Homo sapiens: one gene and its partners. The protein of the gene in region 5 purifies or fractionates together with the protein of the main gene of each other region. This does not show direct contact. Each region holds a gene or a part of one and is shown on either strand. Other genes may lie near its edges.

Region 1 (3,290 bases), on a different chromosome or scaffold from region 5:
CCTGATCTTCATCACTGCTGGCATCCAGTTTATCCATATCCTATTACGGGGAGAGAAAAGATAAAGGAAGAGGGAAAACACTAGATTTCTCCAAACTCCCTTCCTTGTCCCCTCAATCTAGAACAGACTAGGGCATTGATTTGTCTATGTCTGTGTTCAGAAATTGTCCCTTTCTTTAATTTTTTTTTTTTTTTTTTTTTGAGACGGGGTCTTGCTCTGTTGCCCAAGCAGGAGTGCAGTGGCATAGTCATGGCTCACTGCAGCCTCAAACTGCTGTAGTCAACAATCCTCCCACCTCAGCTTCCTGAGTAGCTGGGACTACAGGCAACCGCCACCACATCCAGCTGAATTTTAATTTTTTTTTTTTTTTTTTTTGGAGACGGAGTCTCGCTCTGTTGCCCAGGCTGGAGTGTAGTGGTGCGCTCTCAGCTCACTGCAACCTCCATCTCCTAGGTTCAAGCGATTCTTCTGCCTCAGCCTCCCAAGTAGCAGGGATTACAGGCATGCACCACCATACCTAGCTAATTTTTGTATTTTTAGTAGACACGGGGTTTTGCTATGTTGGCCAGGCTGGTCTCGAACTCCTGACCTCATGTGATCCGCCCACCTCGGCCTCCCAAAGTGCTAGGATTATAGGCGTGAGCCACCACGCCTGGTCATGATTTTTAAAAAATTTTAGGCCAGGCCCTGTGACTCATGCCTCTAATCTTAGCACTTTGGGAGACTGAGGCAGGCGGATTACCAGAGGTCTGGAGTTCTAGACCAGCCTGGCCAACATGGTGAAACCCCGTGTCTACTAAAAATACAAAAAATTAGCCGGGTGGAGTGGCACATGCCTGTAATTCCAGCTACTTGGGAGGCTGAAGGAGGAGAATCGCTTGAACCCGGGAGGCTGAGGCTGCGATGAGCCCAGATTGCACTATGGCACTCTAGCCTGAGCTACAGAGCGAAACTTCATCTAAAAAAAAAAATTTTTTTTTTTATTAGAGATGAGGTCTCACTATGTTCTTCAGGCTGGTCTCGAACTCCTGAGCTCAAACAATCCTCCCATTTTGGCCTCCCAAAGTGCTGCAATTATAGGAGTGAACCACGGTGCCTGGCCACCTCCCTGTTTTTGTTTTTTTTTTTTTTTTGCTGCAGGCCAAAGGACAATCTTTTTACCCATAAAGCTCACCTCAAAATCACTTATGTCACTCTCATCTACCTCACCATCTTCGACAAATTCTCTTTTCCCCACATCCTATAAATAAAACATAACTGTTAGGTTCAGAATACATAATGAAGATTCAGATTAGACATCTAAGTAAGTACAAAATAACATAATGAGAACCACAGTCTTTTCACTAGGCAATGAAAATTTAGTTCTTTCTAAATTTAATGCTTCTGAATTTTAAAAATTTTAGGGCTACCAGATCATTCTTATTCTTGATTTAAATTATTAGCAATAAAACATCCTCATTATGGTTAAAAACTACATATAGACAGGAAAGGCTTTATAATTTGTCACCTTGCAGGAACAATTTTAGAAGACCAATAAATTAAGACTAAAATTGTTAATGGTTTGTTGGTTAGCCTGAAGAACAGAGCAACCAGTGCTAAACCAAAATTAATCACATGAAAGAAAAAAGAAGACATATCATTTTTGGTTAGCGGACTGAAGATGATATTCTGTTTCTCAGTTTTATACAAATGGTATCTAGTAGGTTTGGCAAAACAAAAACAAGACTTACTTCCTCATCATCATCATCATCATCTTTTTCCTCAGTATCTGAAGAGTCACTCTCTGCCTCCTGTTGTTCCAGGGCTTTGTCGAAGGCATGAATGGGGAAGTTGTAGATGTCGCCATACTGAAGAACATAAACACAGATTGGCTTTAACTACATTTGGATATTACACTTGAAGTTCCACTTTCTGTGGAGAATATTACTTTTTCCTCAGTGATTAAATCAGAATACTTAATTTGATGAGTAATATTTTTAAGTGTAGAGCCAGCAGTGTCTTAAAAAAGCATGTTCTTTTGAACATTTAAATCATCTGCAGTTAGTATCAAATAGGTAACTTCTATGGAGTTACATTTTAAAATAATTTAAAATGTAATAGTCTACAAAACCCATGCATTGGGACAAATGTCATTTTGCTGACAAGGGGAAATAATAAGGAAAAAGCATACTTTAGTCATGTTGTCTGTATAAACAACACTAATTTTTAAAAAGAGAATAAAAACTTATTTCAAAGAGCCTTAAAAGACTAGGGTAATATGCAGGAGAAGCAAAACCCCATGGCTTTTATACAGAAATCTGGAATTGTTGTCTTGGGGAATGGAGCTGAGAATAATGGCAAAAAGGGAAAGGTCTCTTATAGTGAATGGAGTATCAAGGGTAACCAAAGCATTTTATGTGCTTGCATTAATTAAAGCAAGGAAGCCAGGCCGATATGGATTTATTTTATTCCAGGGATAAAATTCGAGTGGAGATCTTCATATCATGTTAAAAAACATTTCCCAGCCAGGCACAGTGGCTCACGAGGTCAGGAGTTCAAGACCAGCCTGGCCAAGATGGTGAAACCCTGTCTCTACTAAAAATACAAAAATTAGCTGGGTGCAGTGGTGGTGCCTGTAATCCCAACTACTCAGGAGGCTGAGGCAGGAGAATTGCTTGAACTTGGGAGGCAGAGGTTGCAGTGAGCCGAGATTGCACCACTGCACTCTAACCTGGGCAACAAAGCAAGACTCCATCTCAAAAAAAAAAAAAAAAAAAAAAAAAAAAAAAAAAAAAAAAAAAAAAAAATTCCCAATATGTCTTAGCAACATACTACCACTTAAAATTTCAGTACCCCAAAGCTAATGGCTTTCTCACCGTATCTTGTTTCAGTCTCTCCAGTAATTCCTTCTCAATGGCATTGTCCAGCTGAGCAGCTATTAATGCCTTTTCCTATAAGGGGGAAAGAGCAAATCTGTTTAATTCATCAGTGCTCATTACTCATCTTATAAAAATGGAAGAAACTACCAAGTTGTTTATAAGAAAGACAATGTAATTATTTCCCCTCCTTGCTAATACTGGCTTTTGCCTTTCCAACGAGATAGATTTCTTCTTCTTTCTCTTGTAAACTTCCTTGGGAACATTTCCATTTTGAAATTCCTATGGTTTTGTAAACAACATTCTAAATTAAATTCTAACACAGGCTTTGATAGATACAAAGCATGTAAGTCTATATACATTTAAGTGTCTCAGAAATAATCTAGCAACTCTGGAGCCAGACTTTGTAAAAGCTGAGAAAAGAGAACAGAAATC
Region 2 (3,500 bases), on a different chromosome or scaffold from region 5:
CTTTTTTGGGACAGAGTCTGGCTCTGTCGCCTAGGCTGGAGTGCAGTGGCACAATCACAGCTTACTACAGCCTCGACCTCCTAGGCTTAAGCAGTCCTTCCACCTCAGCCTCCCAAAGGATTGGGATTACAGGCATGAGCCACTGCCTGGCCTCTAGATTTCTTTGTGGTTATCTTCCTTCTCCTCTTTGTCATCTTTTTGTTGTTCGTTTTGTCTTTTTATTTAGATCTGCTCTGCCTTTTAGATTTCTAAGTGAATATTTTTTAAAAGTTTAAATTTGAAAATTAGCAGGCTGCTCTGTATTCTTAAAGCACATTATTAGACAAGATATGACATAATTAACCATTCAATCAAAGCTTTAAAGTTATATAACACTAAGTGGGCAGAATACAAAAATGTTATGTGTAGTGTAATTATGACTGTACAAAGGAAATGATTAGAGGAAAGAACAAAAAGAAATATACCAAAATGATAAAAAGATAATCGTATTAATTGATAGTAGGTTAGTTCCTTTCAGCCCCCTATCCACCCTTTTACTTTCCAGATGTTCTGCTAATATTTTACTGAAAAAAAAAAAAAGGGGGTGCTTGAAGCTAAAATTTAAACTACATACAAGTAGCTTCATTGTGATATTTCTTTTGGTCACTTTGTTTTGATTCCCCTAAGGGCTACGTTAGTCATGATTGTCTCCTGTCACTCCTGTTTCTGTTGCTGAAAGTATATATCATTGAATTTCTCCTTCCTAGGGGTGTCTTCATTAGATACTTTCTCTCCTCTGTTGACTGTGAGCAAATACATTTGGAGCCATTGTGTATCTGTTCTTTCAGGCAAGAGCAGCTAAACTGTCTGAGGGCAGCCAACCTGCTGAGGAGGAAGAGGATCAAGAAACACCTTCCAGAAACCTAAGGGTCAGAGCAGATCGAAATTTGAAAACAGAGGAGGAAGAAGAGGAGGAGGAGGAGGAGGAAGAAGATGATGAAGAAGAGGAAGGTGATGATGAGGGACAAAAATCTAGGGAGGCACCAATCCTGAAAGAGTTTAAGGAAGAAGGGGAAGAGATACCTAGAGTAAAACCAGAGGAGATGATGGATGAGAGACCCAAAACAAGATCCCAGGAACAGGAGGTGTTAGAGAGAGGAGGGAGATTTACAAGATCCCAGGAAGAGGCTAGAAAAAGTCATCTGGCCAGACAGCAGCAGGAGAAGGAAATGAAAACAACATCTCCCCTTGAGGAGGAAGAAAGAGAAATAAAATCTTCACAAGGCTTAAAGGAAAAATCGAAGTCTCCTTCCCCTCCTCGACTGACTGAAGATCGAAAGAAGGCCTCACTTGTAGCGCTGCCAGAGCAAACTGCCAGCGAGGAGGAGACTCCTCCACCTTTACTAACAAAGGAAGCATCTTCTCCACCACCTCATCCACAGCTCCATAGCGAAGAAGAAATAGAGCCCATGGAAGGCCCAGCCCCCGCTGTCCTCATTCAGTTATCTCCTCCTAATACAGATGCTGACACCAGGGAGCTATTAGTATCTCAGCATACTGTCCAGTTGGTAGGAGGCCTGTCTCCTTTGTCAAGTCCTTCAGACACCAAAGCAGAATCTCCAGCAGAGAAAGTGCCAGAGGAGAGTGTCCTGCCTCTGGTTCAGAAAAGCACACTGGCTGACTACTCAGCCCAGAAGGATCTTGAACCTGAGTCAGACAGATCTGCTCAGCCCCTCCCTCTAAAAATTGAGGAATTAGCACTGGCCAAAGGAATCACTGAAGAATGTCTGAAACAGCCATCTTTGGAACAGAAGGAAGGCAGAAGAGCTTCTCATACCCTTCTCCCAAGCCACAGATTGAAACAGTCAGCTGATTCATCCTCTAGCCGGTCCTCCTCATCTTCCTCCTCCAGTTCTAGATCAAGATCTCGCTCTCCTGACAGTTCAGGTTCTCGGTCTCATTCACCGCTCAGATCCAAGCAGAGAGATGTAGCCCAGGCACGTACTCATGCCAACCCTCGTGGTAGACCCAAGATGGGCTCCAGATCAACATCAGAGTCCAGATCAAGGTCACGTTCACGTTCTCGTTCAGCATCAAGCAACAGCAGAAAAGTGAGTATGAGAGAATCCCGGGTGTATTAATGTTCTGTCATATTCCAGTGGTTTTCATTTCAGCCCCTGGAGAGCCTGTCATGATTTCTGAAAGGAATAGGAAAAGCCTCCTTTACTCTCCTTCACTGATTACTTTCTCCTCATTTCAGAATCGTATTTTCAATTAACTGATTCCCGAAATGGGGTTCTTTTTCATTTTGAGTCCCTTGATAGAATGTTGAATTTATGTACTCATCTCCTCCACTAGATGGAAACTTCTTGAGGATGTGGGCATGCCCTTTTACGTGTGTGTCCCAGGATCTAGCATCTAGTTAAAACTTAATAATTTGTTAAATAAGTGGTCAAGGAGACCACTAAATGGGAATAAACACAGACAAAATGGGAGTAAACACAGACAAAAAGGTCCAGAGTATAAAATTTGGTCCATGGAAACTGGAAAACTCAGCAATCTACTGAATATATACCATATACAATAATTTTCCTTGTTATGTGTTTCATTTTGTTTTAGTCTCTGAGCCCTGGAGTCTCCAGGGACAGCAGCACCAGCTATACTGAAACCAAAGATCCCTCTTCTGGTCAGGAGGTTGCAACTCCACCAGTGCCACAACTGCAGGTCTGTGAGCCAAAGGAGAGGACTTCCACCTCCTCATCCTCTGTCCAAGCAAGGCGTCTGAGTCAGCCTGAATCAGCTGAAAAGCATGTGACCCAGAGGTTACAGCCTGAGCGGGTAGGCTATTGTGACCCCTCCCTACACAGAGATGGAGGATTAAGCAAGATCTTCCCTCTTGTCTTTGCTATAAAACTAAAAAGTTAAGTCTGGACAAGGTTCAGTAGAAATGTGGTGGATACCTGTTAATCCTGCTTAACTCATTTCCAGCTCCCTGGTTCGTAGAAGTTCTACATGAGGCTGAGCAGCAGGGTTATCTCCAGGGCCCCCAGGGTCAATTCTTCCTCATAACTCCTCCTTTTATCTGCCAAAAGGAAGTCAGCCTTTTCTCAGTTCTCTCAAAAAAGAATTCTGTCAGAACAAGGATCACTGAGGAAAAGGAAAAAAATTAAAAATTCTGATAAAATGATTACTGGCATAAATATTCTTGAAGTACCTATTTTTAAGCCATGTTCCTTTCCTTATTCTAAAATGAAATAACAGATACAGAGGGCCGTGTGTGGAGCTGGTACTGTGTATGTCCTGCCCTGCCTTTTTCAGGCTCCAGGTAGAAGAAAAGGAACCAAGCAGATCTAAATGTTTTGCTCTGTTCGTTTTTGCTATCTCCTGACAGGGGAGCCCAAAGAAGTGTGAAGCTGAAGAGGCAGAGCCACCAGCTGCCACACAGCCCCAAACCTCAGAGACTCAGACCTCTCATCTGCCAGAATCAGAAAGAATTCATCACACTGTGTAAGTGATATATC
Region 3 (3,500 bases), on a different chromosome or scaffold from region 5:
GCCACCACACCAGGCTAATTTTTGTATTTTTAGTGGAGACGGGATTTCATCATGTTGGCCAGACTGGTCTTGAACTCCTGACTTCAAGTGATCTGCCCACCTCGGCCTCCCAAAGTGCTGGGATTACAGGCGCCCATCCCCTTCTTAAAGTCTTCTTTTTCACTGGCTTCCATAAGCCTATGCCACTTCTGGTTTTCCTAACCTTTCTGGCTGCTCTGTCTCAGTTTTCTGGACCAGTTCATCATCTTCTACACAAACATTAAATGTTGGAGTTCTCGTGGCTCACCAGACTCCCTCTCCATAATTCTATGGTGCTCACATTTTGTCCACAGTCCAAACTGCTCCTCTGAACTGCAGACACACTGGGAGTCAACACAATGTGGTGGTTATGGGCATGGATTTTGTAGACAGACTGCCCAGTTTCAAATCCTGGCTCCACTCATTAGCTGTGTAACCTTGGGCAAGTTCCCTTTTGTGACTCATTTCTTCATCTCTAAAATGGGAATAATCATAATACTTACAACCTCACAGGGTAGTTATGAGGATTAAATGAGTTCATATATGTTAAAGGTCTTAAAAGAGTGCCTGATGCAGCTGGGCGTGGTGGCTCACACCTATAAGCCTAGCATTTTGGGAGGCCAAGGCAGGTGGACTGCCTGAGCTCAGGAGTTATAGACCAGCCTGGGCAACACAGTGAAACCCCGTCTCTACTAAAATAGAAAAAATTGGCCGGGCATGGTGGCGTGCACCTGTAATCCCAGCTACTTGGGAGGCTGAGGCAGGAGAATGACTTGAACCAGGGAGACAGAGGTTGTAGTGAGCCGATATCGTGCCACTGCACTCCAGCCTGGGCGACAGAGTGAGACACCGGTGCAAAAAAAAAAAAAAAAAAAAAGTGCCTGATGCATGGTAAGTGCTAAATGATACTTTTGCACATGCTATTTCAGGCCCCCAATCCTTTATGGAAAACGCTGGGGCCAGACATACTTCAATTTTTTTCTCTGATTGTAGAAAGGTAATATGAAATGTATACATACACTGCCTATTAATCTAATCTCCCTAGTACAGGAAATGTTTTGCTGCCAAATGAGTTTTGGTGTAAAGCTTTGAAGAAACAGAATTTTTCTGGTCTTTGTGGACTGACAGCTGCAGACACAGCTGTATTATTCCCAACTGCCTACTCGACATCTCCCTAGATGACCCATAGTAATGCAGACTCAGAGGTCCCAAATTGATTTCTACTTTTAAAGCCAAACCTGGTTCTTGCAGTGTTCCCGACATGCCCAATCAGGCAAAAGGGTTCTGATGAATGCCCACCTAAAGCATGCATCTCCAGTCAACAAGCTTTCCCAAACCAAATCTCTCTCAGAAGTTTCTACTACCCTCCAATTCCACCACCTAGTCCAAACTACCCTCATTTCTCACCTCTGCTGATGAAATCAACTGCTGCAACCCCTCTTGCCCCCATTTTGAAAAGGCTTTAATTTTAACCGTTTCCCATTGCTCTTAGAATAAACACTAAAATCCTTACTGTGGCCTCTAAGGGTTTGGCATCTACCTACCTCACCAGTCTCAGCTCAGATCTTTATTACTCTTGCTTTCTACAACCTACCAATGGTAACCTTCGCTGTTTCTCAAACTGAGCCCGGACCTTTGTACATTCTCCTCCTTCTGCCTGGAATGTTTCTCAGCCTCCATATTCCTTTTTTTTTTTTTTTTTTTTGAGATGGAGTTTCACTCTTGTTTGCCCAGGCTGGGGTGCAATGGTATGATCTCAGCTCACCACAACCTCTGCCTCCCAGGTTCAAGCAATTCTCCTGCCTCAGCCTCCTGAGCAGCTGGGACTACAGGCACACGCCAACATGCCCGGCTAATTTTGTATTTTTAGTAGAGATGGGGTTTCTCCATGTTGGTCAGGCTGGTCTTGAACTCCTGACCTCAGGTGATCTACCCACCTCAGCCTCCCAAATTGCTGGGATTACAAGCATGAGCCACCACGTCCGGCCCTTTTTTTTTTTCATTTTTTCAGACAGAGTTTTACTCGTGACGCCCAGGCTGGAGTGCAATGGCATGATCTTGGCTCACTGCAAACTCTGTCCCAGGTTCAGGCGATTCTCCTGCCTCAGCCTCTCCAGTAGCTAGGATTACAGGCGCCCGCCACCACACCTGGCTAATTTTTGTATTTTTAGTAGAGACAGGGCTTTCACCAAGTTGGCCAGGATGTTCTCGAACTCCTGACCTCAGGTGATCCACCAGCCTCGGCCTCCCAAAGTGCTGGGATTACAGGTGTGAGCCACCGCGCCCGGCCTCAGCCTCCACATTCTATCAGTACCTCTAATCCATTTAATTTCTAATCATCCTTCGGGGCTCAGCATGCAACTCACTTCTTCAGGAAAGTCTTCCCTGAACCCTCAGACTGAATAAGGTCCCCCCAAGACTCCCACTAAAATCCATTGTAAGTCCTGGTACTTCTCCTTTATAACATTTATCACAATTATAATTAAACAGCCACAACAAAAAGGAAACAATCCAGATGTTGTTAAGGAAATACATAAATACACTAAGGCACATCTATACTACGAAATACAACACAGCCAATACAATTAAGGGGTAAATCCATATGTACTAAATGGAAAGATCTCCAAGATACTGTGTTGGAGTTTCAGTTCCTTGTGCATGATACATACATATGTAAATGCATAGGAAAATTATTGGAAAGGGGCACACAAGCTGTTGATAATGGTCATATGAAGGGAGAAGAGCAGGGGGAAGAGGGGAATAAATGAAGGTGGTTTTTCACCTTAATTCTACATACTTCCATATGCTTTGAACTCTTTTTTTTTTTTTTTTGGTAGAGGAGATGAGGTCTCACTATTTTGCCCAGGCTGATCTTGAACTGGCCTCAAGTGATCCTCCGGTTTTGGCCTCCTAAAGTGCCTGGGATTAAAGGTGTGAGCCACTGTGCCTGACCTTATTTGAGCTTTTTACAATGAGAATTATTCATGCATTACTAGACTGATTTTACATTTAATAGTTTGTATAAAGACTTGCTAATTGTCTTTCTCCCCCGTTAGATGTAAACCAAACCAAAGAAGAGACTATACCTATCTTGTTCACCAATTCATCCCCTGTCCCCTAACCCAGTGCACGGAACAACATGGGCACTGAATACGTGTCTGCTGAATGGCTGAATGAATGAATCTTCTGTCAAACCAGGGTTCTTTTACTGCACCATAATGATTTTCCACTGAATCCTCACAACTATCAGAGTCACCTCATTCATGTATTAGTGAATTCTCACCACTGGACCCATCTTTCCACCTCCAGGCCACCCTAGCTCCCTGATCAACTCTTTGGATAGTTTTCACCATCCAGTTACCCTTATCTATCCTAAACTGATAAAAGATGTCATGCCCTGGGCACAGACTGGGCATAAGGACTGAGCTAACCACCAGTTTCCTTCCCATCTCACAGATGTTCATTTGGTAGGATGATCCTAT
Region 4 (3,500 bases), on a different chromosome or scaffold from region 5:
TGAGTGTGGTGATGTGCACCTGCAGTTCTAGCTACTTGGAGGCTGAGGTGGGAGGGTTGCTGGAGCCCAGGAGATGGAGGCTGCAGTGAGCTGTGATCACACTGCTGTACCCCCGCCTGGTGACAGAGTGAGATCCTGTCTCAAAAAAAAAAAAAAAAAAAAAAAGAATGTAGTGAAATAATATATGTCAAAGCGCTGGAATTATTTTTTCTGGGATCATTAATTTTGCCATAGAACAACCCTGGGAGCATGCTTAGTGAAATTGTCAACATAGAGACATTGTACAGTTCACCATGCTTTGTTTTTCAGTCCCCAAAAGAAACTAAACATGCTTTGTTTTTCAGTCCCCAAAAGGTTTGCAGTATCAGTTTTCAAATGCATTTATAGATCATTCAGAATTCATATTAAAACTACCCTTGATGCTTATTTAAATACTGGACTTTTAATAATAGTTGCTGTGGCCTTTACTAAAAGCATTATAAGTCCTTAATTATACATTATTTATTAGTATTGGGAATTGGCTGAAAGAAATACCATCCCAGGTCAATTAGATCAACAACTACAGCATATGTCAGACAGTGGTACCAAAGCATGTCTTTTGGGAAAACAAGGTTTATGTCTAAGATTGAATTAGTTGTAGTAAAGTGGAAATACCTGGAGGTAGTGTTAGGGGAGCCTTTTGAAAAGCAATTTATTGGGGCTGAGTGCAGTAGCTCATGCCTGTAATCCCAGCACTTTGGGAGGCCACAGTGAGAGGACTGCTTGAGGCCAGCCTGGGCAACATAGTGAGACCCCATCTGTACAAAAAATTAAAATTAGCCAAGTATGGTGGTGCATACAGTCCTGGCTACTTGGGGGGCTGACATGGAAAGATCCTTTGAACCCAGGAGTTCAAAAATTCAGTAAGCTATGATCATAACACTGCTCCCTAGCCTGAGTGACAGAGTGAGACTCTGTCTCTTAAAAAAAGAAAACAATTTATTAAAGCAATGATTTTCAAACTTTAGTGTACATCAGGTTTACCTAGAAACTGCTGGGCCCCACTTCCAGCTTCTGATTTGGTACATCTGGGGTAGGGCCTGAGACTTTGCATTTCTAAGAAATTCCCAGATGCTGTTGCTGCTGTCCAGAGACCATATTTGAGACCCATGATATTAAACCAATCCAATGTACTGGTAACAGTCTAAAAGATGGATAGTTTAAAGTGTGGGTGAGATTGTGGGAAAACAGAAACACTGGAGTACTGCTGATGGGAGTGTAATTTGTTATAAACACTTTAGGAAATATCCTGATAATACCAAATAAAGTTGAAGTCCACCATGGATGGATCTAAGAAAATTTAGAATATAAAAAGCAAATCATAGACTGATAAGTATAATATGATGTCATTTATATACATTCTTTAAAAGCATACATAAATCACTATATTATTTGTAGATACATGTATGAAAATGGGAATTAGATTGGAAGGGTACCCATGAAATATGATAGTACCAAAACCCCTCAAACCATGAGGAACTATGTCTGAACCAGTGGGAATATTGTGCTTCTAGTCAAGGAATGTGATTGATCATTGTGTTCCTAAGCTGCTGTCCTACAGAGAGAAAAAATAAATTGATTCCTCTTGACAAATGAGTTCCACAAAGTTGTATGTGTTTTGGGCGGTAGAATTCTTAAACATGCATTCTTCTCAAATTTTGAGCTGCTTCCTAGCTCCTAATGTCCTGGTTATTTAGTGAATGTCTGTGTTCACTTTATCTGCCCAAGACCAAGACAAAGGGTGGTGCTGAGGAAGAGCCTTCTCCTGTGAAAGCCGGGCCCCTACCTCACCTCTTCCTGACCCAGCAAAGACACAGATAATCCCATTCTGTTCCCCAGTTTAGTAAGTGGACATGACTCTCCACTTCTGTGCTTTGTTCTGATGGAAAAGGACTATTTTCTTTCACAGAAAAGACAATTATGGAGCCATATTAATGTGGTTCAAATTCCATTTCTATCACTCATTAGCTGTTGGATTTCGAACAAGTTTTTTTTTTTTTTTTTTTTTTTTTTGAGACAGGGTCTCATTCTGTCACCCAGGCTGGAGTGCAGGCACGATCATGGCCCACTGCAGCCTCGACATCCCAGGCTCAAGCAATCCTTCTACCTCAGCTCCCCCGAGTAGCTGGGACCACAGAATCATGCCACCATAATTGGCTCATTTTTGTATTTCTTGTAGGGACAGGTTTCACCATGTTGTCCAGGCTGGTCTCGAATTCCTGAGCACAAGCAATCTGCCTGCCTTGGCCTCCCAAAGTGCTGGGATTACAGGCATATGCTACCATACCCAGCTGTTTAACCTTTCTAAGTTTAGTTTGTGATTTTGTTGTGGTCTTTTGACAAAAGGTTTTTTTTTGTTTTGTTTTAGAACAGCTTTATTGAGATAATTCATGTACCATACAATTCATATACCATACAATTCATCCATATATAGTGTACAGACAAAAATGTTATATTAACCACCTAAATTTAGTATCTCAATGGTTAGTACTCATCTAAATGCATAATTTATGCTAAATGTGAAATAGGTCTATTTTTTAAAAAAATATTTTATTTTGTTATTTTATTTTATTTTATTTTATTTTATTTTATTTTATTTTATTTTATTTGAGACAGGGTCTCAGTTTATTGCCTTGCTGGAGTGCAGTGTCACAATCACGGCTCACTGGAGCCTTGACTTCCCAGGCTCAGGCAATCCTGTCACCTCAGTCCCCCAAGTAGCTGGGTCTACAGGTACGCACTATCAGGCCCAGCTAATTTTTAAATTTTTTGTAGAGATGGGGTCTCAACTCACCTTGTTGCCCAGGCTGGTCTTGAATTCCTGGCCTCAAGCGATGCTTCTGTCTCAGTCTCCCAAAGTGCTGGGATTACAGGCATGAGCCACCGTACTGGCCTCTTTTGTTTTTTTAATAGAGATGATTATTTTGTCCTTTCTTTCTTTATACCATGCTTTCTCATATGATAGTTTCTAGTACTGTTCAACTGTGATCAAAGTATGCTTTGTTTTATAGCTTATTCTTCTCTTTGGAGGAATACCTTATCTCTGGAGACTTTCTGGACGGTTCTGTGGTTATGCTGGCTTTGGACCAGAATATGAGGTATGTGATTCATTAGCATGTATTTGTCATGGTATTTCTTTTAGCTTGGCAGGCTTTCCACTAAAGTTAATTTTTTGGCTTCTGCCAATGTTAAGATTTGCCTCTCTGTTTGCATAGTCCTTGGTTACCCATGCTGTATTGGCATAACATTAGTTACAATAACAAATCCCAGAATATCACAGGCTTATTTGCAATGGTTTATTTCTCAATCACGTAATAGTCCAGTGTGAGTATTTTTAGTTATCAGGTGACTTTCTTCCATGTGGTAAGCCAAGAATCCAGGCTCTTTATCTTAGGGATTTGTCTGTATGATTTAAGGTACCTTTCATATAGTGCCTGTGTAATAAAAAAGGAATTGTTTTG
Region 5 (3,500 bases):
TCTCCAGGTTCCCATTACTTCCCTGTGGCCTTTCCTTTCTAGGAGATGGTGGGATGCTTCCTCGGGATTCAGTCTTCCCCAAGCTCTGTGCAGAGCCCCATTCTTAAATTCAAGTTGAAACATGAACTTTGGTTTAGCTTTAAACCTCTTTAAAAACTAAGTGTCACAGAAAGTCAGATTCATAGACTGGATAGAAGAGCTGAAAGGTATAAGATATAAGCTATAATACCAACCTTCTGGCCAGGCGTGGTAGTTCACACCTGTAATCCCAGCACTTTGGGAGACCGAGGCAGGCAGATCATCTGAGGTCAGGAGTTTGAGACCAGCCTAGCTAACATGGTGAAATCTCGTCTCCACTAAAAAAATACAAAAATTAGCCAGATGTGGTGGCACATGCCTGTAGTCCCAGCTACTTGGGAGGCTGCAGCAGAAGAATTGCTTGAATCTGGGAGGCGGAGGTTGCAGTGAGCCAAGATCACACCACTGCACTCCAGCCTGAGAAACAAGAGTGAAACTCCATCTCAAAAAACAAAAATAAAAACAAAAAAACCAATCTTCCGCAAAGATATAAGACCAACCTTCCCATTTTACAGATGAGAAAACTGAGGCAAGGTCAACAGACAATAAGACAGCCAATGTCTGACTCTTAGTCAAGATTAGTTTTCACTACAACCCCCTCCAGAGATTTATATTTAAGATCTAGCTCTTAAAATATTTGGCCCAATGTATTGAGGTTCCTGACTGGGACAGGGCTAAAGAGAAGGATTGGGGTCGGCCTCCACTGCCTAATTCTTTGGTCTCTAAAGCCTTTCAAGTAGCATTTCCTCCTTGCTTAATTTGGGCAGGCTGCCCATGTTGACATAGAAGTTAAAGGCACACTTTGGTCTCTCTCAAAATAAAGTGCTCCAGAGAAACTAAATATGCAATGGCCATTTGCCCAGCTGCTCTCCTCTTTAGAAGGGGTGCTTTGTTTCTTCAAACCTGCAGCTTGCATTGAGGACCCATACACACAGAGACTGTCCCAGCAGGCTAAAGGAAGATGTGGGCAGAAATACAAACCTTTGCATAGAACATTAGAGCCAGAGGACCTGTTGGAAAGGCATCACGTCCAACCCATTCACTTCTCAAAGGAGAAACATCGTACTACCTCTAACTCCATTAACTTTGAACTCTTTAAGCTTGCTTAACCTGCTGCCTGGAAGCTATCAGCCCTGCTGAACTCAGAAGGCGAGAGCTGTAAGGGATCCTAGAATAACCTAGTCTGTTGTACAGATGAGGACCAGAAGCCCAGAGGGAGGAAGGATTAGCCTGAGAGCCCACAGGTAGTTCAGAGCGGTGGCCAGTCTGGAACACAGATCTCCTAGATATGGTCACTTTACTTACTGCGAAGGGAATGAAACTCATTTCAAGGCCCTTTCAAGGCCTTGTGTCTAATTCTGTATTGAAAAATGTGATTCTTTTCATTAAAGAGGGCTCTCCACATTGTAAAAGTTTCAAGATCCCACAAAATCTAGATCTGCCCCTAGCCACACACCACTAGTCGTTAAGTACCGAGAAAGGGAATCCACGTAGCCCTTGACCTATAATCGGGGGCTAAATACAGCATGGGCCACCAGGGTGATGATAAGGTGGTGAAACCACTACAGTCAGTGATGAAAGCCGTCCGGAGAGGAAAATTGGCTTCTGCGCACTGACAACAGTCTCAGGGGACTCCCTGATGACAGGCTGCCTTTGCTATTGAATCCCTGTCTGGAAGTGAATAATTGTTATTTTAACCAGATAAAATTATAGATATGATCCCATGAAGGTTTTACAATAGTTGGCAACACGGAGACACCAGGATTGTCAAAAATCATTGCCCACCATCAGCTGCGTAGAGCTGAGCTTCAGGCATAAACAAAACATCAAGTCTTAGAACTGGAATGAGCTTATTTTCTTAAAAAAAAATAATAATAATAAGAGACATGTCCTCAGCATCCCCCAGGCCATCCTCTGGGCTGGACAGACAGATAACGGGACACTCCCTTCAACAAGTATAGAATTAAGGGTCAAGCGTCCCCTGAGGCCCACCAAGACCTTTCCAGGACAAACGGGCCTCAGCAAAGAAGGGACTCTGCCATCCTGACACTTTCGTACTGATTAATATTCCCGCCATGGGCTCAGTTCCCTATGCCTGACCCATGTGGTTGGTATTTTTTTCTCCTCCCTTCTTCCACTTTCAGAGCATTCTTATGTGTTTCTGAAGCAACAACTGCTCCCTGCATATATTTCCATCAAATTACCAGAAAGAGAGCTCTGCCCTAGATAACACAATGGAATCAATGCACTGCTAATTGCTTAGGATCCTGAGAGCTTCAAATGCTGGGCTCTAAAAGCACCAGTTCTACTCAGCAGGCTTCCTCTTTTCTTTTCTCTCCATCCCCCTCCCACTCACTCTTGACAATATCCCATGGTTGGTATTCCTAGTGAAAAGTTATTTTGACCCTCAATACAAAATAAGGAAGGTAGTTGGCTTACGGAAATACCCTAGTGCTGTGGTTAAGAAAATGGGCCTTCTCAACAGACCACTAGTTTGAAGCCTTGTTCCATCATTTACTAGTTGTGTGACTTTGGGCAAGTTAGTTAACCAACCTCTCTGGGCTTCTATCTCTGCATTTGTTAGCAGGGATAATAATAGCACTTACCCCATAGGTTTGTTATAGAATTAAATGAAATAATCTTTAGGAAGCACTTAGCACAGTGCCTGGTACAAGTTAAGTACCCAAGAAAGTAGCCATTCTCATCATTGTAGACTTTGACTCTATTTAAAGTGGAAACTCTGAGGGCTTCTAGCATTGTTAACTTTATAAGGCTGAACATCGATGTCAGTGTTGGATTATATTGACTTTTATTCAATCAAAACAGTACTGATCATTCCTTTTAGACAGATAGAAATGAAAAAGCTTAAGACGGAAAAAATGCAAGCAATAGAGGCCAAAATCATAGACTCCAGGAGTCAAAACAAGCCTCCGAGGTGGTAAACCTTGACTTTCCACCCAAAGCCCAAAACCCTTCTGCAATATTGCTGTGGGGTGGCCTCCCTGCCTCTTCCAAAGACAATGATATTTGGGCCTTCCCATTTTAGATCAGCTCTGATATCTGACACCCTGAACTCTCGCACATGTGTCCCAGTTCTGTCTTCTGAAATAATATCATATAATTATCTGGCTGACAGTACTTCAAATATGTCCACCTTCTCCAAGCTAAACATCTTGTCTCTGTTGGTGGTTCATTCACCATCCTAGTCACTCTTCTCTGAATATGATCCAGTTGCTCAGTATCCCTATTAAAAAATGAAGCCCAAAGTTGAAGTGTTATATTCTAGACTTTATCAGACCCGTGCAGGCCATCACGGGTCAGAGGTGACCTTCTAGGTTCTGGAAGACTCTAGGAATGTGTCCTAGGAAAATAACTTTAGGGCAGTTTTTTTCACCGCTACTTCACATGGAGCAACTCCGAGA
Region 6 (3,500 bases), on a different chromosome or scaffold from region 5:
AGTAGCTATGTCTATAGTTTTACCACAAGTTACTGAAAGGGGAAAAAAAAATCTCACAAAATTTTAGAGCTAGGAAGGATCTTGCTAACCCACCTCATTTTACACGTAAGCAAGCTAAAGAATATACAAGTTAATAAATTTGTCCAAGGCCACCAATTGCAAAGTTGGCAATAAAAGTTTGCCATAACAGAAATCCTCGGATCAACTCAAGGCCACATTTGGTGACTCCTGTCAGGCTGCAAGGCCAAAAAGAACCACCAAAGAGGCAGCAAAATATTTCCTGAGGAGTACAGGCAGCTTTGCACTGAGTTCCAATTTTCTAGCCGAAAAAGCTATTTTTGAAGTGTGGTTTCTGAGGAAGGCTGACTCACCGAAAAAGTGGGGAACAATATACTCACGGTGGACTTCTCTAAATTGGCGATGTTTCTCTGTGGTCCTTAATCAGCCAGAGGGATCACTGCAAATATGAACCCACCCAACCATTTTCTTTTCATTGTTCTTAAACTAAAAACAGAATTCTTTAAACATTCTACAAGGCTTCGCAGGGTCTGGCCCCTGCCTGCCTCTGCAGCCAGGGCCACTGTATATAGGTGTGGAGTTGGTGCCTGGCTGAGGGGGTAAGTGGGGCCTGGAATCCAGGTCACACACTCCACAAGCCAAGGCCAAAATTTGGCTTTGGCTGTAACTGCTAGGAGAGGAAGAAGTGCCTTAGTAATTAGCATGAGGGAACTCTCAGGGCTAGCAGCTGGCCTACCTGCCAGGTTTGTCACACCATCTCCTGATTGCACCCCCATCCACTCAGGGTTTCTATCTACCCCAGAACTCACCTTGCCTTTTGCCATCTCAGGGTGAGGTGAATCAGGCAGAGAGGATACTTTGCACACAGGCCTCACTCCACCCTCCTTCAAGTCTCAGCTCAGCCAGCCTTTCCTCAGTCTCTCTGACCAGAGCACAGCTCCATATGCCTTTTCTTTTCTTTCCTCAAGAAAGGTTCTTCCTCTGTCACTCAAGCTGGAGTATGATGGCATGGTCATAGCTCACTGCAGCCTCTTTCTCCCACACTCAAGTGACCTTCCTCAGCCTTCTGAGTAGCTGAAACTACAGACTACAGGTGAGTGCCAGCTTGCCTGGCTAATTTTTAATTTTTTTCTTTTCTTTTCTTTTTTTTTTTTTTTTGAGACAGAATCTCCCTCTGTCGGCAGGCTGAAGTGCAGTGACACAATCTTGGCTCGCTGCAACCTCTGACTCCCTGGTTCAAACAATTCTCCTGCCTCAGCCTCTCCAGTAGCTGGGATTAAAGCATGCGCCACCACACCCAGCTAATTTTTACATTTTTAGTAGAGACGATGTTTCACCATGTTGGCCAGGCTGGTCTCGAACTCCTGACCTCAAGTGATCTGCCTGCCTCAGCCTCCCAAAGTGGAGAGCTATTTTTGACTATAGGCATAAATGTGGGCTTTGGACACAAATTCGTCTTGAGTAAATGAGAACAGTGTCTCCTTGGCCTAAGGATCATGGAATAAAGGAGACTGTACAGTAGGTAAAACTGAACAGGAGCCTGTCTCTTTTGTTACAGAAAGGTCATAGTGAGATTTTCCTAACCAACTGAATTAGGAAGGCCTAGAGGATTTATTGTATTCTTGCCATTCCCTAAATATTTACTGTATCCTGTGTAATTTGGCACAAATTAAACACTCGCATCCAAACCAACCATTGTCTTTTTAACAGTTGGCATGTTAAAAGTGTTCATACTAAGACATGCCTTAGGAACCTCCAGATTTTCTTTTGTTTTTAATAAACAACAGGTTGGACTCGGATTAGAAACCATAAATCTGACGCTTCCCACAGTGACGGAGCTTCAAATAATAGTTGTGTACAAAGCTCTGATTAGACTTCATAAAACCCTTTTTAACTTTTCATTATGGAAAACTAACATATACATAGGTAGAGAGAATAATGTATAATGAATCTTCATGTATGCTCATCACTGCTTTCACAATTAGCAACCCATGGTTACTCTTAACAACCAATACTTTTTGGGGAACAGAAGTGGAAAGATATTTGTTTACAAACTGTTCTTCTTGAATGATTTTAGAAAATTAAAAAAAAAAAAAAAAGGCTGGGTACAGTGGCTCACACCTGTAATCCCAGCACTTTGGGAGGCTGAGGTGGGGGGATAACTTGAGGCTAGGAGTTCGACACCAGCCTGGCCAACATGGTGAAACCCCGTCTCTACTTAAAAATACAAAAATTAGCCAGGCATAATTGTGTGTGCCTGTAATCACTTAAAAATACAAAAATTAGCCAGGCATAGTTGTGCGTGCCTGTAATCCCAGCTACTTGGAGGCTAAGGCAGGAGAATCGCTTGAACCTGGGAGGCAGAGGTTGTAGTGAGCCAAGATCCTGCCATGGCATCCAGCTTGGGCGATGCAGAGAGACTCTGTCTTAACAAAACAAAACAAACAAAAGCTACTGAGAACTGTCACATGGCAAATTCTTACAGAGCTGTGGAGAGAAGACAGGGGCTGGACAAATGCTAACGAGCTTGGTAACACAGACTTCCTTCTCACAAGTTTCCTGTCTATTTACCCCTCACTAACCCCCAATTTCTGCATTCTTTTTCCTCTGAGACAAGGAGAAGCTGCACCAATGAGATATGAAGCAGATTAGAAGAAGCAGGGCTTTCTGCCTTCCAGGTGTCTCCTTTAGCAAATTGCATAACGAGAAGGAAGGCCAGGAAATCCTATCATATATCAATGATGAATGCTTGCAAACCTGAAGTTGTTAGCCTGAAGGTTTTGCCTAAAATTACAGGGCTTGAAGGCATTCTCAGAAACAGGAAGCCACGCTCATTTCAAGAGACAGAGGATGGTATTAAGGGTGAAGGCATTCTCAGAAACAGGAAGCCACGCTCATTTCAAGAGACAGAGGATGGTATTAAGGGTTAAGTTTTCTGAAGCTGAGTGATAAGGATAGAATTCATTTGTCCAAAAAATAAAAAATACAAAATTTCCAATATTGATGCTTAATTAGATATTAAGTGGGTAGGTCAAGAATGGGTCTTGACCTTTTTGAACTGGATTTCCTGTACAGAGCTCTCTGTCCCTAAGCTGATGGAGAGCTTCTCCTTTCTAAGACAGGGGGCCAGGAATCCAAAATACACTCATTTATTTGCACACTTACCTAGAATCATTGTAAATCCTTACCTAGGGAAAGGAAACAGAAACTACCAACCAAAGGCCAAAAGTAGCAGGCAACATTGAAAAAAAAAAAAAAAAAAAAGCTGGACGGAGAGGGGAGAGAAGTTCAGATAAACAAAGTTACATAAATAGTATCAAAGGTGTGCCAGCCATACCTCTCGCCTGTCATCCCAGCACTTTCGGAGACCAAGGCAGGAGGATTGCTTGAGCCCAGGAGTTCGAAACCAGCCTGGGCAACATGGCAAAAACCCTTCTCTACAAAAAAAAATACAACAATTAGCCAGGCTGGTGGCACATGCC
Region 7 (3,500 bases), on a different chromosome or scaffold from region 5:
TAAGGCTCTGCCTCTGGGAGAACCGTGTATGCTTTCTGAGAGTGGAGAGAGGCTTACTACGAACTTGGTCAAAATTCCTGGTGGTGACACATCATAATGCCAACTTTCCAAGGGTGTGGCTTGGCTCCAGCTCACGTTGGAATCACAACGCAGCAGACAGCTGTGGAACTCCTCGGACACAGGGCATTGGAGGGCCCAGGAAGATATACCGTGGCAGGGGAGTGGGTCTGTGTTTGGCATCTTGTGCTTTGCAGTGAACCAGAGCTCACTGTTTCTGTTTCATCCCCGCACCACTAGCTGCTGTCAGCGCAGGCCATGGCCTGCCTGCCAAGTTTGTGATCCACTGTAATAGTCCAGTTTGGGGTGCAGACAAGTGTGAAGAACTTCTGGAAAAGACAGTGAAAAACTGCTTGGCCCTGGCTGATGATAAGAAGCTGAAATCCATTGCATTTCCATCCATCGGCAGCGGCAGGTAGGGGCACATGCTTGTTACGTATCGGTCATGGGTGTGTCTCTCTGCGCACACATGGCCCATAATTGTGGTGCTCTCACTCTGTGCAAGGCCCACGGAGGCTGCCTTAACCAAGGAGACCAGAAGCACAACACAGGGAAGAATGCAGACATTAAATGATGGTGAGGGACAATTAGAGAGACCCAAATCCCAAGGATGATATAAAACTTAAGTTTTGATAGCAAATGTCATCACAGAAGGGGAACCCAGTGTGTACTGGGACCACAGAAATGGTACCTCAGAGAGTAAGTTTTGAGGGGCACAGTGACTTGGGTGGAGAAGATCTGGAGGCGTGAATACAGGGATACAAACGAACAGCTTGGCTGTCTCAGAATAAGGCTATAGCTGTGTTATGGTCTGTCCCCCAAACCACAGTATTCTTTGGATAAAGCCCTCTGCCCCTTTCCTTTCTACTCACAAGTATATTTCACCTCCTGAGAACCTGCATCTCTACCTGACTCCCTGTCTTACTGCCCTAGGGTAACCCTGCTGGCCTGCTAATGAGGTAATGGGACCTGGTGGAACGGAATGGGGAATTACGTGAGATTGAAACAGGGCTGGGCCCTACTCCACTTCCTGTCCCAGAAAATCCCCAGGTAGACTCACCAAGGTCTTCACGACCAACACAGTTGCCCCTAAGACATACACATACCCGGAGGACCACCACAGGAGAAGTCTAGTTTTTCGACAGCTGATGATGCAGGTAGGGCTCAGGGCAACCCCCACAATACCTACCTGGTTGTACACCCCACACATGTCAGCAAATAACCTATCAGGTTCCTGCCTGTTGGAGCAGCACTGCACTCTGGCTTAGGGGTCAGGCCTGGAGTTGCATCCTGGCTTGGCCACTAACCCGGTGAGTGATGACATGTAAATTAACCCCCATTCTGAGAAGTTGGCATAATAATCCCCCCATGCAGTATCTCAGGGTTGCTCTAGAAATTAAAGGAGCTCTTAGAAGGCAGAGTGCTTTCAGAAGTGTGTCCCATGATGCAGACATGAGGACCTGTCAGGGCAGAGCCACCTCTGAGATTGTGTCCCACTGCCCATTGCTAGGGTCCTCCCTACCAAGGGTCTAAGTCCAAGAGTCCAAGGCCTCTGGAAGGCTCGAGGTCTGCATTGGGCACTGAAGCAAAGAGAAACTGGCCTTTAGAGGCTGTAGCTGTTAACAACTTGCGCCCAAGAGGAGCCATAACCTGGGGTTCTGTATTGGCAGGTGGCTTGCTTTGGACAGAGTACCTGCCACTGCTCCTGGGGCTTCCCATCCCAGCTTGTGAGCCTTCTGGGGTCTCTGCCCATCAGCCCCTCCCAGCACCCAAGGAAGGCAGGGCTGTGCAGCATCAACTGCCTATGACACTGCAGGCTGTCCCTTCTGGGCGAGCCTGAGCAACAGTCCTCAGAACCATGTCCTGAACTGACAGCTGCTCTCTGCAAAGCACTTTCCTTCCAAACTTTCTAGAGGATAGAGAGTAGATTTTGCCATTTTCCGCTTAGGCAGGCCTCGTGATTTTGCCTCCTGCATGCTGCCATCACTGAGGTCCCACACCTCAAGTACTGGTGGCAGAACTAGTACAGAGTGGGCTTCCTGTCACTTGACATTCTGCCTAGTAAAAGGCCTTGTCCACAGGCAGATGGGCACTGCCACCGTTCCCCAGGGCTTTCTATGGCCAAGGCCATGTGTGACTGGCAGGACCCACCAGTACCAGGCTCTGGGGAAAGATCTCTGGTTGCACCTGAACCTTCTCTGGAGCCTGTATCACTGCCCGCCACCCGCCGCCACCCCCACTTCTCCCAGTCAAGGGCAAAACAGCAGAATGAGCATTTCCCCAGCAACCCCTCACCAGTTGTTGAGCTATGGGCAGGCTTGCCTCCCCCTTCCCTGGCCTCACATCTCTGGGCTGTCTGGTCCTGGGGTTCTGTGAGTGAGGCCCCTCAGCTCTCCTATCCTGTGTGACCTTTGGTTAAATGAATCAGCCTCTCTGCCCTGGTCTGCCTTATCAGCAAGTGAGGCTATAGGGACTGCCCATCCTCACAAATGGTTCTGAGGCTCAGTTAATTAGTGCTTTCAATGCACTTTGATCTGCTCTGATGAAAGGTGCTTCCGCAGAGGGAGGCAATAGGAAACTTTATTGGAGGTAATAATTTCACAACCTTTCATATGGGTATTGGGAAATTTTTAATTGAAGCATAAAAGTAATTCTCATAAAAGAGCATCTGTTATTACAAACTTATTTACATTTTTCATGGAGTAAAAAGTAGGAATAAAAATAATCAATTGAAAGCTTGAAGAGGGGGAAATGCCTAAGGCAGCACATGTGTACAGCTACCCAGGCCACATCTGCCAGGCAGACCTCACCCCATAGAGCTGTGTAAACAGCTGCCCTCTCTTTCATGAGTAAAAAAAAATGGGATTACACCAGAGCCGGCCAGTAAATCACAGTGGGTTTTAGGAGGGGAAATAAAACAGCTTGTTTGTTGCATCCAGTGTCTCTGGCACGGAAGTAATGTTGGAATTAAAACAGTATAAAGGTAAGCATGTTGGGAAAGAGCCATTGGTAAAGGATCACTCTCTTAGCTGAGGCCCAGTGGCACAGCCTACATGGATGGAAGATGACCATAACCACACCTGTGTGATGGCTCCCTCCAGCCTGTGAGGCCCTGGCATCTGGACATCCTGTCCTCAGCCATTCTGGTCACGATATTTATGGATACCCCCACTCCCTCAGCTCTGTTTCACATTAGGGGTGACCCCTCTCCAGAGGGGTAGTACATAGGGAATACTAGTTTGGGGCTTTGATTAAACTTTCCTTAGATTTATAAGCTTAAAAGGAAAAGCTGGTTTATTTTTTTCAAGCTACTATTTATGGGTATGTGTTGAGCCCCAGGCGCGGTGCTAAACCCTTTATCTGCATTATCTCACAGCAACCCTACAAGGTGAACAGCATTATTCCTTTCAAGGGCAAAGAAACTGAAGCATAGAGGGGTTAAG

What was found.
Region 1: the proteins of TECTB (region 5) and MAK16 purify together in Homo sapiens (affinity purification with mass spectrometry; one large-scale study listed by BioGRID and IntAct). This does not show direct contact.
Region 2: the proteins of TECTB (region 5) and ACIN1 purify together in Homo sapiens (affinity purification with mass spectrometry; one large-scale study listed by BioGRID and IntAct). This does not show direct contact.
Region 3: the proteins of TECTB (region 5) and RDH11 purify together in Homo sapiens (affinity purification with mass spectrometry; one large-scale study listed by BioGRID and IntAct). This does not show direct contact.
Region 4: the proteins of TECTB (region 5) and ZMPSTE24 purify together in Homo sapiens (affinity purification with mass spectrometry; one large-scale study listed by BioGRID and IntAct). This does not show direct contact.
Region 6: the proteins of TECTB (region 5) and ARL6IP5 purify together in Homo sapiens (affinity purification with mass spectrometry; one large-scale study listed by BioGRID and IntAct). This does not show direct contact.
Region 7: the proteins of TECTB (region 5) and MACROH2A1 purify together in Homo sapiens (affinity purification with mass spectrometry; one large-scale study listed by BioGRID and IntAct). This does not show direct contact.

The regions. Positions count from the first base shown.
Region 1 is NC_000008.11:33,495,182-33,498,471, reverse strand, and holds part of MAK16 (protein MAK16 homolog), read right to left. Parts: intron 2,931-3,290; coding exon 2,856-2,930; intron 1,848-2,855; coding exon 1,731-1,847; intron 1,241-1,730; coding exon 1,175-1,240; intron 41-1,174; coding exon 1-40.
Region 2 is NC_000014.9:23,078,137-23,081,636, reverse strand, and holds part of ACIN1 (apoptotic chromatin condensation inducer in the nucleus), read left to right. Parts: exon of another isoform or gene 1-827; coding exon 828-2,090; exon of another isoform or gene 2,091-2,177; intron 2,178-2,598; coding exon 2,599-2,817; intron 2,818-2,939; exon of another isoform or gene 2,940-3,370; coding exon 3,371-3,486; intron 3,487-3,500.
Region 3 is NC_000014.9:67,685,765-67,689,264, forward strand, and holds part of RDH11 (retinol dehydrogenase 11), read right to left. Parts: intron 1-3,500. UniProt on the Homo sapiens protein: Retinol dehydrogenase with a clear preference for NADP. Displays high activity towards 9-cis, 11-cis and all-trans-retinol, and to a lesser extent on 13-cis-retinol.
Region 4 is NC_000001.11:40,264,736-40,268,235, forward strand, and holds part of ZMPSTE24 (CAAX prenyl protease 1 homolog), read left to right. Parts: intron 1-3,050; coding exon 3,051-3,137; intron 3,138-3,500. UniProt on the Homo sapiens protein: Transmembrane metalloprotease whose catalytic activity is critical for processing lamin A/LMNA on the inner nuclear membrane and clearing clogged translocons on the endoplasmic reticulum.
Region 5 is NC_000010.11:112,286,400-112,289,899, forward strand, and holds part of TECTB (beta-tectorin precursor), read left to right. Parts: intron 1-3,500. UniProt on the Homo sapiens protein: One of the major non-collagenous components of the tectorial membrane. The tectorial membrane is an extracellular matrix of the inner ear that covers the neuroepithelium of the cochlea and contacts the stereocilia bundles of specialized sensory hair cells.
Region 6 is NC_000003.12:69,091,437-69,094,936, reverse strand, and holds part of ARL6IP5 (PRA1 family protein 3), read right to left. Parts: intron 1-3,500. UniProt on the Homo sapiens protein: Regulates intracellular concentrations of taurine and glutamate. Negatively modulates SLC1A1/EAAC1 glutamate transport activity by decreasing its affinity for glutamate in a PKC activity-dependent manner.
Region 7 is NC_000005.10:135,340,232-135,343,731, reverse strand, and holds part of MACROH2A1 (core histone macro-H2A.1), read left to right. Parts: exon of another isoform or gene 1-297; coding exon 298-472; exon of another isoform or gene 473-577; intron 578-3,500. UniProt on the Homo sapiens protein: Variant histone H2A which replaces conventional H2A in a subset of nucleosomes where it represses transcription. Nucleosomes wrap and compact DNA into chromatin, limiting DNA accessibility to the cellular machineries which require DNA as a template.